Linked DNA regions of Homo sapiens. The protein of the gene in region 1 binds, or shares a complex with, the protein of each later gene. Each region holds a gene or a part of one and is shown on either strand. Other genes may lie near its edges.

Evidence for each region.
Region 2: EXOSC2 (region 1) and EXOSC1 share a complex: the UniProt entries of both Homo sapiens proteins name them as parts of the RNA exosome core complex.

What each region holds. Positions count from the first base shown.
Region 1 is NC_000009.12:130,689,075-130,697,349, reverse strand, and holds the start of EXOSC2 (exosome complex component RRP4), read right to left. Parts: upstream 3,571-8,275; 5' UTR 3,559-3,570; coding exon 3,437-3,558; intron 1,859-3,436; coding exon 1,757-1,858; exon of another isoform or gene 1,744-1,756; intron 1-1,743. UniProt on the Homo sapiens protein: Non-catalytic component of the RNA exosome complex which has 3'->5' exoribonuclease activity and participates in a multitude of cellular RNA processing and degradation events.
Region 2 is NC_000010.11:97,435,415-97,443,244, forward strand, and holds the end of EXOSC1 (exosome complex component CSL4), read right to left. Parts: coding exon 7,823-7,830; intron 5,846-7,822; coding exon 5,757-5,845; intron 3,290-5,756; coding exon 3,256-3,289; coding exon of another isoform or gene 3,249-3,255; intron 2,337-3,248; coding exon 2,286-2,336; intron 1,862-2,285; coding exon 1,777-1,861; intron 1,138-1,776; coding exon 1,031-1,137; 3' UTR 495-1,030; downstream 1-494. UniProt on the Homo sapiens protein: Non-catalytic component of the RNA exosome complex which has 3'->5' exoribonuclease activity and participates in a multitude of cellular RNA processing and degradation events.

The sequences.
Region 1 (8,275 bases):
TTCATTTAGCCCAAAAACCCTATTTTGTTCGATTACACGACAATGAAAAACACGGACTATTTTCCTGTGGCACATGGATGAGTTCTGCACCAGCCAAAGGAAGAGAAAGGAAATCTGAGCCAGGACTCCAACCACACAAGTCTGCTCACGTCTCCTCCACTTACTCACTGCCTGCTCCTCTCAAGCCCCTTTGCTAGTTCCTTACCCGCGATTCTAATGAGACGTACTCAGTGCTGAGGCTAAGTCCTTAGACCTCTTCACTTTTCGGCCACTCAATCTAATACCTTTAAAACACCACTCTGTGCTGTGACTGTGCCACTCTCCTGAATTCCAAATCCTACTCAACTGCTAGCTACCCAACTCTGCCATCTAGATGACTAACAGGCATTTTCAAATGTATCAAGCACAAAACTAAGCTTTCCCGCAGCCCCCTCCAGTCCTCCATAGCAAACCGAGATAGGGGATGAGTTGTCCCCATCTCAGTCAACGGTGACTCCATCCCCTCAGTTGCTCAGGCCAAAAACCTCGGAGAGTTCCTTGATTCCTCTCTCTCTCTCACGCTCCAGGACAAGTCCAGTAGCAAAACCTGTTGGCTCTACCCTTAAAACATATGCAGGAAATAAAAGGCATCCAAATTGGAAAGGAAGAAGTAAACTTATTTCTATTCACAGTTGACGGGGTCCTATGCACAGTAAAGCCCAAAGAATACAAAACCCAACAGCTTTTCATGATTTTAAAAAAACACTCGGAAAATAAAATCTGTGTAGATTCCAATCACTCCTCCACCTTCCACTGCTCCCACCTTAGTTGAAGCCACCATCACTTCAGATCATGAGTATGGTCCCTAATCCACCTCCCTAAGCTTGCCCTATCCCCCTTCAATCTCCCATCAGCAGCCAGAGTGAGCTTAAGTCCAGATCAAGTCCCTCCTCTGCTCCACCCCTTCCAGTGCTTCCCAGATTACACAAAGTAGAAGCCAAAATGCTTACTCTGGCTACAAGGCAGGCCCACGCCCGCCCACCTCAGCTCTCTGCTTACATCTGCCCCTTCTCTCCCCCTCACTCACTCTGTTCCAACCCCACTGGCTTGCTTTCTGGGGCTAACCTTCATTGAATGCTTCTAGGTATCAGGCTCTGTGCTAAATACTTTACAGGCACCATCTCACTGAATTCTAAAGAAAATCCTAGGCCAGGCACAGTGGCTCACGCCTGTAATCCCAGCACTTTGGGAGGCCAAGTGGGGGGAAATCATCAGAGGTCAGCAGTTCGAGACCAGCCTGGCCAACATGGTGAAACCCTGTCTCTACTAAAAATCGAAAAAAATTAGCCAGGCGTGGTGGAGGGCGCCTGTAATCCCAGCTACTCGGGAGGCTGAAGAAGGAGAATTGTTTGAACCCGGGAGGCGAAGGTTGTAGTGAGCCGAGATCACGCCACTGCACTCCAGCCTCGGCAACAGAGTAAGACTCCATCTCGGAAAAAAAAAAAAAAAAAAAAAGAGAAAATCCTATGAAGTAGGCCATGCTATTATACTCACTTTGCAGAGGAGGTAACCAAGGCTTGGAGTGGTGACATAACATGGGGAAACCTCTGAAGCCTGCACTGATCTGCACCACCCCACCTACAGTCATGGTCAAAACCTCAGACTTACAGCATGACAGGGCAGGCAGGGGTGGGGTGGGGGATAAGGAGGGGGCAGGAAAAGCCTGGTTGTACAACCTGATGCTGCAAGAAAGGGAATACACACCTTTTGTTCTCACCTGGTTTTCAAAGCTTTCACACAGATCAACTTGTTTACTCTCTCCACAGAGCCAGCAACAGATGCAATGAGCTTCTCTTCTCCCATATACGTTCCATGGCCCCTGATGCAAGGCGAAGATACAAAGAAAGGATACGAGGGTAACTCGAAATGACTTCTCTCCCTTCAAGAACAACGTGTTCCTCAAAGCTAACAGGCTCCCCCTGCAAAGCGTGGCTTCTGTGCTGGCTGCTCCCTCTGCCTTCAGTGCTCCTTCTCCAGACAGCTACTTGGACATCACTCCTCTCACTCAGGTCTGCTCAGGTGTCACTTTCTGCAGCAGGCCTACCTTGACTGTGCCATTGAAAACACAGCCCACCCTGTTGCCACCATTCCCCCCACATACCATTGACCCTGCTCCACTTTTTTCCCTATTGCATTATTGCCTAACATTCTGAATAACTTATTCATTGCGCTTATTATCTATCTCTCCCTGTTAGAACTCCACCAGGACAGAGATTTTTCACTCTGCCATAATAACCCAACTGCACAAAATATATGTTGAAAGCATTAATGAAAGAATGAATCTTAAGATTTCCTAGGGGCCAGGCATGGTGGCTCATGCCTGTAATCCCAGCACTTTGGGAGGCCGAGGCGGGCAGATCACACTTGAGGTCAGGGGATCGAGACCAGCCTGGCCAACACAGTGAAACCCTGTCTCTACTAAAAAAAAAAAAAACCAAAAATTAGCTAGGCATGGTGGCGTGCACCTGTAATCCCAGCTACTCAGGAGGCTGAGGCAGGAGAATCACTTGAACCCAGGAGGCAGAGGTTGCAGTGAGCCGAGATCGCACGACTGATCTAAGACAGACTCCGTCTCAAAAAAGAAAAAAAAATTTCCTGGTATCCACTAACCTTAAACTAACAGGTTAAAGGGCAATGCTATGAATGCTGTGCCCCTTGTACATATACAAGTAAAAAAATAATAATAATAAAGGTTGAAACACTAGTGTTATCTATGATGATATAATGGCTGGTTTTACTTCTTTTCTTACATAATTGTCTCATTTAATCCTCATTACCGTATCATACTGTTATTATCACTATCTTACAGATGAGGAAACTGACCGTGGAGAGGCAATGCCGCTAATAAGATGTGATGGTAGCAGGACCGGAACCCCAACTGTCTGACTCAAGAGCCTTCCCTCTTAACCACAATACACTGCACTACACCCCTTAGATTCAAAATGTGTATAAATGGGTGCATGCAGCACAATGTAACTGTTTGCCCTAAGATCGAACAATTACGGATTCTAAACTGAAGAGGAGGCAGCCAAGAACGCCCACCGTCCCCTCAGAGAGCTGAAAACTGGAAAAGAGCCTGCACCTAACCCTCCCCAGCTTTCCAGGTCTCCCACAAGGAAGGATCAAAGATTTGGACTTCAGGCAGAAGACCCAAAAGTCACAGCCACCGGAGGTCAGGAGTGGAGGGTTTCAGGGAGCTGAGACAAATGCAGACGGGGACACACAAGATGCAGGGAGCAAGAAGCACGAGGCTCGGAAGCGAGGTGTGTAGGATGCTCAGACGAAGTGCCCTGGGTCCCGCGGGGAGTTACACACACAGGGATACGAGGCCTGGACCACGTGCAGAGAGCCCTGAAGCCGCTCTCTGAAGCCTCGACTCCCCCAAGTCCCCACGTACCGCATGAATCCTGTGTCCGTAGTGATTGTATCCCCCGGCACCACTAGATGTTTCTTAGTGTCGCGGCCCAGTCTCTCGCTAAGAGGCTTGCGAGCCACTGGAAGCCTCATCTCCATCGCCATCTTGGCGCCAATGAGTTGCGCAGGCGCAGCTCAGTCGGGAGCTGCGATATCCGACTCCACAACTCCAGGCCGCGTTCGGAGGGGCGGGGAAGGGCGGGGACTCAGAGCAGCTGCCAATGAGAACTCACGGCCTAGAGGCCATGTTTACAATTGGCAACAATAAGGCGAACCCGAAGGGAAGGGAGCCGAGCTGCCATGTCTACTATTGGCAAGGAAGCACCCGTGGAATAATAAAATCTCACGTTGTGTGGCGTGTGACTTTTTACCAAAACTGTCTTGTACTCATCATCCCATTTATTGTTTACCAGGGTTAGAGATAATTGAGAAACGGACCTCTGAGTTTCTGTCCAATTCTAAGCTGCTGAAATCCGATATTTTGTAAGAGAGAGCTCAGGAGGATGGAGAGATGGGATCTACAGAAAACACTATTTGAACAGAAAGAAGAGCCCCTTTCCACACGGTTCCCAGTAGCGCCAGGATTCTACATTGCGGCCGCCCCGTGGGTGCTGGCTCAACATCATCATCTATAACCCCAAACCGGGCTCCAGATACTTCTCACTTGGTTCTGTCCTTTCATAAGGACTCCTTTGAACAAGCTAATTTACTCCAATATTTCTTTTGGAAACAAGTTAAAAATCGTCTAAGAAAACAGGTCAAACCTTGCAAGCCAGGTATATTTGGTAGGGAAGGGAAGAGCACACACAATGCGAAGATCTTGGCTTGCATTTAGTTACACAGCGAGTTGAGCGCTCTCTGTGTGCCAGGCGCTGTTCTAAGGACTCAGCGGGGAACAGACGGATGTCTCTGTGGGTTTTTCTGCGGCTCCGTTTTAATAGGAGGGTACCCCTCGCCCCTTCTCCCCGTCCCCCACTACCCTCTCCCTCTCCTTGCCCTGCATTCACAAGAAACTAATTGGGGATGGTAACTCCCCATGCACAGGGACTCTAAAGACGATTAAATGAAATCATTGGCATCAGCTGTGGTCAGTAAAGCCGGTAAACCAAGTCCGCCTCCTGAAGAAAGATCCATCGAGCCAATTGTTTTATAAATCTCCAAAGCGACAGCATTTCTTCCACTTAAGCAAGTCTCACGACCACACTTAAGAAAGCCAGCCCTGCCAGGCAGTCGATGACATGAATGCTAGTGCCCCGAGGCCCTGGGTAAGCGGGCTGCCAGACCCTCGCCCTCTGCCGTGCCTGGAGGAAGGCACTAGAGCCCAGCCCCTCGGTCCAGTCCTGCCGCGGCCATAAGAGGGCGATGGTGTCCTCTGAGCTCGCGTAGCCCGGCAGCCGGGGAGCCAGGCCCAGCGAGCGGCCCTAGGCGGAGCGAGAGTGTAGGCCTGACACCATCCAAGTTCTTCCCGGGAGGGAGAGACGTCGCCTTTACCCCGCGCATTCTCACAGCGTTCACAAGGTTGGCATTGTGGATACCAGTTTATGGAGGAGGAAATCGAGGCCCCAAAAGGAATGGAATTCACATTAGCAGATGGCTGCAAAGCCGATGTGTGTTCCAACTGCACGCGATTTACCCCAGAGCCTGCACCCTTTACCAGAAATAGCCCGAGTGCTTCGGCTGGTCCTTTGCTGAGTGCTTTACAAATACTATGTTATGTATTCCTCACTTTCAGCCCATCTTCGAGATAGGCATTGCTATCCCTGATGATCACTTGGGGCCACCGAGCCCCCCAAACAGACCCGTAACTGGGACTAGAATCCAAAACGACAGGGACTCCCCCTCTCCCATCCCCAGTGCTCCTCTTTCTGCATCATCACACGCACCTTTTTTTATTTTTATTTTTTTCGAGACAGAGTCTTTGTCACCCAGGCTGGAGTACAATGACACGATTATGGCTTACTGCAGCCTCGTCCTCCTGGGCTCAGGTAATCCTACCACCTCAGCCTCTTGAATAGCTTGGACTACAGGCACATGCCACCAGGCTCGGCTAATTTTTTGTATTTGTCTTGTGAAGACAGGGTTTCACCGTGTTGCCCAACCTGATCTCGAACTCCTAAACTCAAGTGATCCGCCCACCTTGGCCTCCCAAAGTGCTGGGATTACAGGCATGAGCCACCAAGCCCGGCCACACTTACCCCTTTACGACCAGTAGACAAGTGGGTACCCGGAGACGAAGCAGCACATCCCAGGGGGCTTGTAAAAAGTATAGATTCCTTAGGCATTGAGGCTGTAAACCCCGAATATCTGAGACAGGTCTCAGTTAATTTAGAAAGTTTATTTCACCAAGATTGAGGATGTGCCTGTGGCACAAGCTCAGGAGGTCCTGACAACCTGTGCCCAAGGTGGTCGGAGCGCAGTTTGGTTTTATACATTTTGGGGAGACATGAGGCATCAATCAACATATGTGAGATGAATATTGGTTCGGTCTGGAAAGGCTGGACAACTCGAAGCTGGGAAGGGGCTTCCTGGTGATAGGTAGATAAGAAACAAATGGTTGAGGCCAGGCGCGGTGGCTCACGCCTGTAATCCCAGCACTTTGGGAGGCCGAGGTGGGCGGATCACGAGGTCAGGAGATCGAGACTACCCTGGCTAACACGGTGAAACCCCGTCTCTACTAAAAATACAAAAAAAAAAAAAAAAAAAAAATTAGCCGGGTATGGTGGCTGGTGCCTGTAGTCCCAGTTACTCGGGAGGCTGAGGCAGGAGAATGGCTTCAACCCGGGACGCGGAGTTTGCAGTGAGCCGAGATCGCACCGCTGTACTCCAGCCTGGGCGACAGAGTGAGACTCCGTCTCAAAAAAAAAAAAAAAAAAAAAGAAAGAAAAAAGAAACAAATGGTTGCATTTTTTGTATTTTTAGTTTCTGATTAGCGTCTCCAAAGGAGGCAATCAGGTATGCATTTATCTCAGTGAGCAGAGGGGTGACTTTGAATAGAACGGGAGGCAGGTTTGCCCTAAGCAGTTCCCAGCTTGACTTACTTTTCCCTTTAGCTTAGTGATTTTGGGGCCCCAAGATTTATTTGCCTTTCACAAGGCTCTGCAAAGGTAAGGTCCAGAAGTCTGTGCGTGTTTTAACTCCCTATGTAATTTCAATGGCGGAAAAGGTCTAAGATTCACTGATGCCACACATCTGTGCATCTCCGCAGCCACTGCCCCAGGCTGATCAACGGCATCTCTTACCAGGGAGATAACCTCCTAGCTTGTCTTCCTAATTCTACTTTTGTCCTTCCTATCATCCAATCTCCGCACAGCAGCCAGAGAGAGCTTTAAAAACAGATTAAATCACTTCTCTGCTTCCAGCACTTCTTGACTCCTGCCTGTCTCTGACCTCACGCTCGTCCTAACCCACTGCGTTACTCACTATGCTGCAGCCGGACTGTTAACGGTGGAGGGTGCCCAGCTTCTCGGCGTCTTGGACAAAACATACAGACAAAACAAGGAAAGAATAAAGCAACAAAAGCAGAGATTTATTGAAAACGAAAGTACACTCTACAGGGCAAGAACAGCTCAAGCAAAGAAACTCAACAGGCTCCTTACAGAAGTTTCTGGGGTTTAAATACCCTCTAAAGGTTTCCCATTGGTTATTTGGTGTACGCCCTGTGTAAATGAAGGAGTGGCCCGTGATCAGTCTGATTGGTTGTGGAAAGTGGCCAATCAGAGGCTGAAGTTAAAAGTTACACCCTACGCCAATGTCTGATTGGCTGTGGAAAGTTATCAATCAGAGGCTGAAGTGAAGTTACAAAGTTATACTCCCATGCAAATGAAGACTTGGCCACCTACCAGCCTGACTGGTAGTGGGAAGGGAGCAATCAGAGGTACTTTCAGTTTTTCATCTGCACACAGAAAAGCTGGGATTGCAAAGGGAGTAGCCTCTGGTCCTTTGGTTACTTGGACGTGGAAAGTTGGGGTTTTCCTTTTGATTTAGTTCTAGAAAGTCAGTGTGAATCAGCCTTATGTTCCCTGCCTCCAGACCCTATTCTCCTGCCTCAAGACTAGCTGGCTTCCCCTCGGTTCCACAGCACCAAGCTTCTCATCACTCCAGGGCCCTTCACTCTGGTCTCTTTCTGCATGAATTCTCTTCTCCCAGGCTTTTGTGTGGCTGGCTCCTTCTCCTCACTCATGGCTTGCTCAAACATCACCTCCTCAGAGAAGACTTCCCTGATCACCTTATCTGGAATAACTTTCCAGTCCTTTTTTTTAATCCCTTGATCCTGTTTTACTTCTTGTCACTGATTTTTCTTTTTCTTTTCTTTTCTTTCTTTTTTGAGAGAGAGACTTGGTCTTGTCACCCAGGCTGGAGTGCAATGGCGCGATCTCAGCTCACTGCAACCTCTGCCTCCTGGGTTAAAGAGATTCTCCTGCCTCAGCCTCCGGAGTAGCTGGGATTACAGGAACCCATCACCACGCCCAGCTAATTTTTGTATTTTTAGGAAATACGGGGTTTCACCATGTTGGCCAGGCTTGTTTCAATCTCCTGACCTGAAGTGATCTGCCCACCTTGGCCTCCCACAGTGCTGGGATTACAGGTGTGAGCCACCATGCCTGGGCTTCAATTTTCTTTCTTTTTTTTTTTTTTTTTGTTCATTGATTGCAGTCTCCCCCCACTAGAACATGCATTGCTGAAAACAGGGACTTTATCTATTCTGTTCATCATATATCAATGCTTAGATCCAGGCCTGGCACACAGGGCAGCCATAAAATATTTGTTGAAAAAAATACAATATATTTACAAAATACAGATTTGCTTGTCTGCTCATCGCCTG
Region 2 (7,830 bases), on another chromosome or scaffold:
TCTCATCCCTTCCTCATCCCCAAACTTACGCCTTCATTTCTGCTTCTGCATTTAGCCTGGGCTTGTCTCTCTGCCTTGAATATCTTCACTTACTTTTATGTTCTTTAATTTATTTTGATCTCACGTCACTAATCCTTTCCTGGCCACCTCATATGACAGTACTCTGTCCCACTTTTCAATTCAGATTTAACATTTCCTGGAGTACCCACTATATCAGTGATGTGTATCAAATACTTTTAGACATGTTATTTATTTATTTATTTTGAGACAGAGTCTCGCTCTGTTGTCCAGGCTGGAGTGCAGTGGTGCAATCTCGGTTCACTACAACCTCTGCCTCCAGGGTTCAAGCGATCTTCCTGCCTCAGCTTCCTGAGTAGTTGGGATTACAGGCATGTGCCACCACGCCCGGCTAATTTTTGTATTTTTAGTAGAGATGGGGTTTCACCATGTTGGCCAGGCTGGTCTCAAACTCCTGACTTCAACCCAACTCGGCCTCCCAAAGTGCTGGGATTTACAAACATGAGCCACCATGCCTGCCTCACATGCTATCTGTATCACCACGTGTCCTCAAATTTTCATTAAATCACAATGTACCTAAATGAAGGGGACGTATGTAAAGCACCTGACTCAGTGCCTAGCACAGTAAGTACTCAATAAGCAGAAGTACTGAAATGTCCTGACACCATTTAGATGTCTTTCTCTGCTTAAGACAACAGACTCTATAACATCCTTTTAGTAAAAAAGTTTTATCATAGCAAAAAATATGTATTTATAAGGACTGTCAGGAGGGATAGGCTATTTCCAATATCACAGTTTTGTTTGTTGGTGCCTTGAAAAGATAAGATTTATTACTCAAGAGAATGAAATCCACTGATAGGTTCACAGAAACATGTTCCATCTACAGCGTAAACTGGAAGATTTTTCTGGAAGTGGCTGTTGGCCGACGCCAGGTGTTTGAATAAAGACAGCAGCATCTTGGTGTTATACTCAGGAACAGCTTACCCCCTTCCATAGGGTAAAAAGTGGCTTCTTAGGTCTGCAAGAATTCGGGTTGTACTCGGGCTACTTTCCGGAATTCTTTAGTGTGGGTCTTAGGGCACTGCATCTCACACCAGCTGATGGGAACCATCTGGATACCTGGAAGGGAAAAGCTGGTGGTGGAGCCCAGACCCCAAAGATTTGCCTGCGACTCCTCTTTTATGCTGGGTATGAAGCTGAAGTGCCACCAAGCTTCCTACTGAACCTCAACTCATAAAGAAAAAACTTTGTTCATTCTACTGACTTATGAAGTGAGTCCCGTTTCCTTGGATTTATATAAGGAGAATCAGGCTGGGCGTGGTGGCTCACACCTGTAATCCCAGCACTTTGGGAGGCCAAGGCGGGCAGATCATTTGAGGCCAGGAGTTTGAGACCAGCCTGGCCAACATGGCGAAACCCTGTCTCTACTAAAAATACAAAAATTAGCTAGGTGTGGTGGCGTGTGTCTGTAATCCCAGCTACTTGGGTGACAAGAATTGCTTGAACCAAGGAGGTGGAGGCTGTGGTGAGTGGAGATGGCACCACTGCACTCCAGCCTCCTCGACAAAGTGAGACCCTGTCTCAAACAACCACCACCACCAGCACCAAGCAAAAAAGAAAAAAATAATCATTCTAATCTCAGAGGGAAATATCTATAGCCATACTGCTTCCCAGATAAGGGAAACCAGGAAAAACAATGGATTTATCCCAAACCATAGATCCAGGGAAAGTAAGGATGTGGAAACAAGGCCATCTCACCTGACTCACTGTGGGCTACCACCACTCCCAGCTCGTTCTCGGCGGTGGTTAGCAGGTAGTTGGACTGTGCATCACCTAAGGAGATCTAGTCACATAACACCGGTGAAGGAAAATGAGGAGTTAGAAGTCTTCCCCCACCTTAGCCACCTGAGTTGTTTTTCTACCTTTTTTTTTTTCTGAGATGGAGTCTTGCTCCGTTAACCAGGCTGGAGTGCGGTGGCGTGATATCAGTTCACAACCTCTGCCTCACAGGTTCAAGCGGTTCTCCTGCCTCAGCTTCCCGAATAGCTGGGATTACAGGCATGTGCCACCACGCCCAGCTAATTTTTGTATTTTTAGTAGAGACAGGGTTTCACCATGTTGTCCAGGCTGGTCTCGAACTCCTGACCTCAGGTGATCCACCCGCCCTGGCCTCCGAAAGTGCTGGGATTACAGGCATGAGCCACCACACCCGGCCTCCTTCTCTTCTTTTGACAAAGGACCAGAAGTCTGCTGGGAATAAAGGATACCACTTTGGCCAAGACAATGTCACCTGGGCGGAAACTCTTATAAATTTCAACCTGTAAAGAAAGAACAGGAATGTTAAGTGAAAGCTCTAGACTGGGTCTATATGAAACTGTGAACGCTTCTGGTAAAGCCAATCTACTTTCTAATCCTGGAGGGTAGAAATCATCATTACTCATGTCAAGTCAAGAACTTTTAATTGCTTCTACAGTATTATCATACAAATGAAAATTTTTTTTTTTTGAGATGGAGTCTCGCTCTGTCGCCCACACTGGAGTGCAGTGGTGCGATCTCGGCTCACTGCAACCTCTGCCTCCCGGGTTCAAGCGATTCTCCTGCCTCAGCCTCCTGAGTAGCTGGGATTATAGGTGCATGGCACGACACAGGCTAGTTTTTATATTTTTAGTAGAGACGGGGTTTCACCATGTTGGTCAGGCTGGTCTTGAACTCCTGACCTTGTGATCCGCCCACCTTGGCCTCCCAAAGAGCTGGGATTACAGGTGTGATCCACTGCACCCGGCCCTTTTTTCTTTTTTTTTAAGAGGTGGGATCCCACTGTGTCACCCAGGCTGGAGTGCAGTGATGCAATGGTAGCTCACTGCAGCCTTGGACTGCTGGACCAAGGGATCCTCCTGCCTCAGCCTCCCAAGTAGCTAGGACTACAGGTGCGTGCCACCACTTAACCTCAAACTCCTGGGCTCAAGCAATCCTCCAGCCACATCCTCTCAAGCAGCTGGGACTACAGGCATGAGCTACCATGCCTGGCCAATTTTTGAATTTTTAAAATTTTTGTAGAGACAGGGTCTCGCTATGTTGCCAGGGCTGGTCTTGAAGTCCTGGACTCAAGTGATCCTCCCGCCTCAGCCTCCCAAAGTACTGGGATTACGGGTGTGTGTGACCATGCCTGGCCTGAGATAATACTTTTAAGGGATTGAGATACGTAAAGCCATTAAAAAAAAAGAACCAACCAACAACCTTGTCTTTTTCAGTTGCTCGGACATCTTCCTTGCTATAAAAAAAGAATTAACAGAAAGATTAATTACCTGTGAGAAAGAATTTTTTTTTTTTTTTTTTTTGAGACAGAGTCTCCCTCTGTCACCCAGGCTGGAGTACAGTGGCGCAATTTTGCTCACTGCAACCTCCGCCTCCTGGGTTCAAGCAATTCTCGTGCCTCAGCCTCTCAAGCAGCTGGAATTACAGGCACGTCCGCCATGCCCAGCTAGTTTTTTGTATTTTTAGTAGAGATGGGGTTTCACCATGTTGGCCAGGCTGGTCTTGAACTCCTGACCTCAGGTGATCCACCCGCCTCAGCTTCCCAAAGTGCTGGGATTACAGGCATGAGTCACCTTGCCCAGCCTGTGAGAAAGAATTATTCTGTAGATTCCTAGTAAATAAAGAGCTACAAGAACAGACAGAACAAGTTGTAAATGGGACACAGCTGCTACCCAGAGGAGCAGGGTGGAGAAGCATCCTCAGACCACATGGAGAGGCAGTATCAATACCTCTGATTAGATAAAGGCAGATCGGATTTGGCAAGAAAGGATAAGGAATTTCGTTGCCTCAGGGCTTGAACAGAAGCACTATAGCAAGGGCCCCCAACTTCTGGTGGCCTGTGAGGAACCGGGCTGCATAGAAGGAAGTGAGTGGCAGGCAAGCTTCATCTGTATTTACAGCTGCTTCCCAATCGCATACATTACTGCCTGAGCTCCGCCTCCTGTCAGATCGAAGTGGGCATTAGATTCTCATAGAAGTATGAACCCTATTGTGAACTGCACATATGAGGGAGCTAGGCTGCCCACTCCTTATGAGAATCTAATGCCTGATGATCTGTCACTGTCTCCCATCACCCCCAGATGGGACCATCGAATTGCAGGGAAACAAACTCAGGGCTCCCGCTGATTCTATATTATGGTGAGCTGTATAATTATTTCATTATATATTACAGTGTAATAATAACAGAAATAAAGTGCACCATAAATGTAATGCACTTGAATCATTCTGCAACCACCCCCTCCATGGTCTGTGGAAAAACTGTCTTCCAAGAAACTGGTCCCTGGTGCCAAAAAGGTTGGGGACTGCTGCACTACAGAACCACATCAAATCCTGAGGCTGGAAAGGGCCTCAAAAGTTAGATTATCTGCCTGGCAAGAAATGTTTGTCCTTTCTCAAGGAAGCCACACGAAATCACCATCTCACCCACAAATCTTTTCAATGTTTTATAACCTCTGAGTTCAATCTATATTAAATTTTAAAGTGCTTCCTAAAATGCCTTCTACTTTTTTTTTTTTTTTTTTTGAGACGGAGTTTCACTCTTGTTGCCCAGGCTGGAGTACAATGGCACGATCTTGGCTCACCGCAAGCTCCGCCTCCCAGGTTCAAGTGATTCTCCTGCCTCAGCCTCCCTAGTAGCTGGGATTATAGGCATGTGCCACCACGCCTGGCTAATTTTGTATTTTTAGTAGAGACGGTGTTTCTCCATGTTGGTCAGGCTGGTCTCGAACTCCCGACCTCAGGTGATCCGCCCGCCTCGGCCTCCCAAAGTGCTGGGATTACAGGCATGAGCCACCACGCCCAGCCTGCCTTCTACTTTGGTTTGAGTCATCCTGACACTGCTAAACTTCAGCTTCACTCAATTCTTTTTGCTTTACCTTTTATTTATTTATTTGTTTTTTGAGACAGGGTCTCACTCTGTTGCCCAGGCTAGAGTGCAGTGGTGCAATCTCAGCTCACTGCAACCTCTGCCTCCTAGGCTCAAGTGATCTTCCTGCTTCAGCTCCACAAGTAGCTGGGAGTACAGGCACGCACCACCATGCCCAGCTAATTTTTTTTTTTTTTTTTTTTAAAGACAGAGTCTCGCTCTGTCCCCCAGGCTGGAGTGCAATGGCGCAATCTTGGCTCACTGCAACCTCTGCCTCCTGGGTTCAAGCGATTCTTTGGCTTCAGCCTCCTGAGCAGCTGGGATTACAGGCACACGCCAACATGTCCGGCTAGTTTTTGTATTTTTAGTAGAGACAGGGTTTCACCACACTGGCCAGGCTGGTCTCAAACCCCTGACTTTGTGATCCACCCACCTCAGCCTCCCAAAGTGATAGGATTACAGGTGTGAGCCACTGTGCCTGGCTAATTTTTGTATTTTTTACAGAGATGGGGTTTCACCATGTTGGCTAGGCTGGTCTCAAACTCCTGATCTCAAGAGATCCACCCGCCTCAGCTTCTCAAAGTGCTAGGATAACAGGCGTGAGCCACCGCGCCCAGCCTTTGCTTTACTTTTAAACCCTCTCGTTAATATTTTCCTTTTGTCCTAGATCATCCATGTATTTTTTGGATACTACTAGGGGAGAATCAAAGCACAAAGAAGAAAGAAAAACGGGCAAAAGAAAAATAGGAATTGTAACTGTTGCTCAAAATTCTGGTGTCCTAGTCTATCCTAATCTTATTCCAGTTGCTAAGGTATATGTGAAAAGGATACTTCTTACCGGATAGTTCCTCGAAAAGAGTTCTTAAGAGGCATGGACCCCACATACAGGATGTGTACTTTGGCAAAGCGTGAATTGATGCTAGAGACCTGCGGAATAGAGAAAAGATCAGCATCAGAGTATAAGCAGTTGTCAGCTCAAGGAGGCAGCAATAAACTGGGGATTACTAGGGCTTCAGTGCAAGCAACCCTACTAAGTAGAGAATTTAAGACAAATTAACTCCTACTTCTCTCTGCGTAAGTGACACATGTAAAGAGGAATAAGAGCCACTCTGGCCACCTGGTAGAGTTACTATGGGAAACAAAGGTGGTATGGGTTTTTTTTTTTTTTTTTTTTTGAGACGGAGTTTCACTCTTGTTGCCCAGGCTGGAGTGCAATGGCGCGATCTTGGCTCACCGCAACCTCCGCCTCCTGGGTTCAAATAATTCTCCTGCCTTAGCCTCCTGAATAGCTGGGATTACAGGCATGCACCACCATGCCCAGCTAATTTTGTATTTCTAGTAGAGACAGGGTTTCTCCATGTTGGTCAGGCTGGTCTCGAACTCCTGATCTCAGGTGATTCGCCTGCTTCAGCCTCCCAAAGTGCTGGGATTACAGGTGTAAGCCACTGCATCCGGCTGGGTTTTTTTTTTTTTTTTTAAATCTTTTCACAACTTGCCCTTCAGAGAGGTATAGACTTTTTAAAGTATAGATGGCTAACAATTAAAAAAAAAAAAAAAAAAGAGGCTGGACACAGTGGCTCATGCCTGTAATCCCAGCACTTTGGGAGGCTGAGGTGGGCGCATCACTTGAGGTCAGGAGTTCAGGACCAGCCTGGCCAACATGGTAAAACCCCACCTGTACTAAAAATACAAAAATTAGCCAGGCGTGGCAGCACATGCCTATAATCCCAGCTACTCGGGAGGCAGAGGCAGTAGAATTGCTTGAACCCAAGAGGCCAGAGGCTGCAGTGAGCCGAGATCGTGCCACTGCACTCCAGCCTGGGTGACAGAGCAAGGCCCTGTCTCAAAAAAAAAAAAACAGGAATGGCAAAAAATAAAGTCTTTTGCTTCTCTGCAGAAAAAGAACTCAGCTTCAGATGTTCAAAAATAGGCCTCCTAATCATCCTCTGGCATCCCTGTTTCCCAGACACAGGTAGAACTATGTATTCAGGGAATCAGCTCAGTGAAGGAACTATGCATGCCTGAACTTGGCTGCCTTGATTATTATCCTAGAAATCTGTAAGCCTGCACAGTCCAGTAAAACTTTCTGTGATGACAGAAAAGTCATGTGCTGACCAGTATAGCAACCACTAGCCACAAGTGGCTATTGAGTACTTGAAATGTGGCTAATGTGACTAAGGAAATCAATTTTATTTTTTTCTTGAGAGACAGAGTCTTGCCCTGTTACCCAAGCTGGAGTGATCATGGCTCACTGCAGCCTCAACCCCCTGGGCCCAAGCGATCTTCCTGCTTCAGCCTCCCAAGTAGTTGGGACCACAAGCATGTGCTACCATGCCTGGCTAATTTTTTATTCTTCTTCTTCTTTTTTTTTGAGACGGAGTCTCACTCTGTTGCCCAGGCTGGACTGCTGTGACGCAGGCTCACTGCAACCTCCACCTCCTGGGTTCAAGCACTTCTCCTGCCTCAGCCTCCCGAGTAGCTGGGATTACAGGCATGCACCACCACGCTAAGCTAATTTTTGTATTTTTGGTAGAGACAGGGTTTCACCATGTTGGCCATGATTGGCCAGGCTGGTCTTGAACTCCTGACCACAGGTGATCTGCCCACCTCGGCCTCCCAAAGTGCTGGGATTACAAGCATGAGCCACCATGCCCGGCAATTTTTGATTCTTTTTGTAGAGATGAGGTTTCACTATGTTTCCCAGGCTGGTCTTGAACTCTGGGCTGAAGCAATCCTCCTGCCTCGGCCTCTTAAAGTGCTAGAATTACCAGTGTGAGCCACTGTGCCCTGCCAGAAATAAATTTATGTAGCTTGTGGCTATCATACTGGACACTGCAGTTCTGGTATGGTCATGATTTCAGTATTGAATGGGCATTCTAAGCATGGAGGTCAGGACCAACTTACCTTACAGG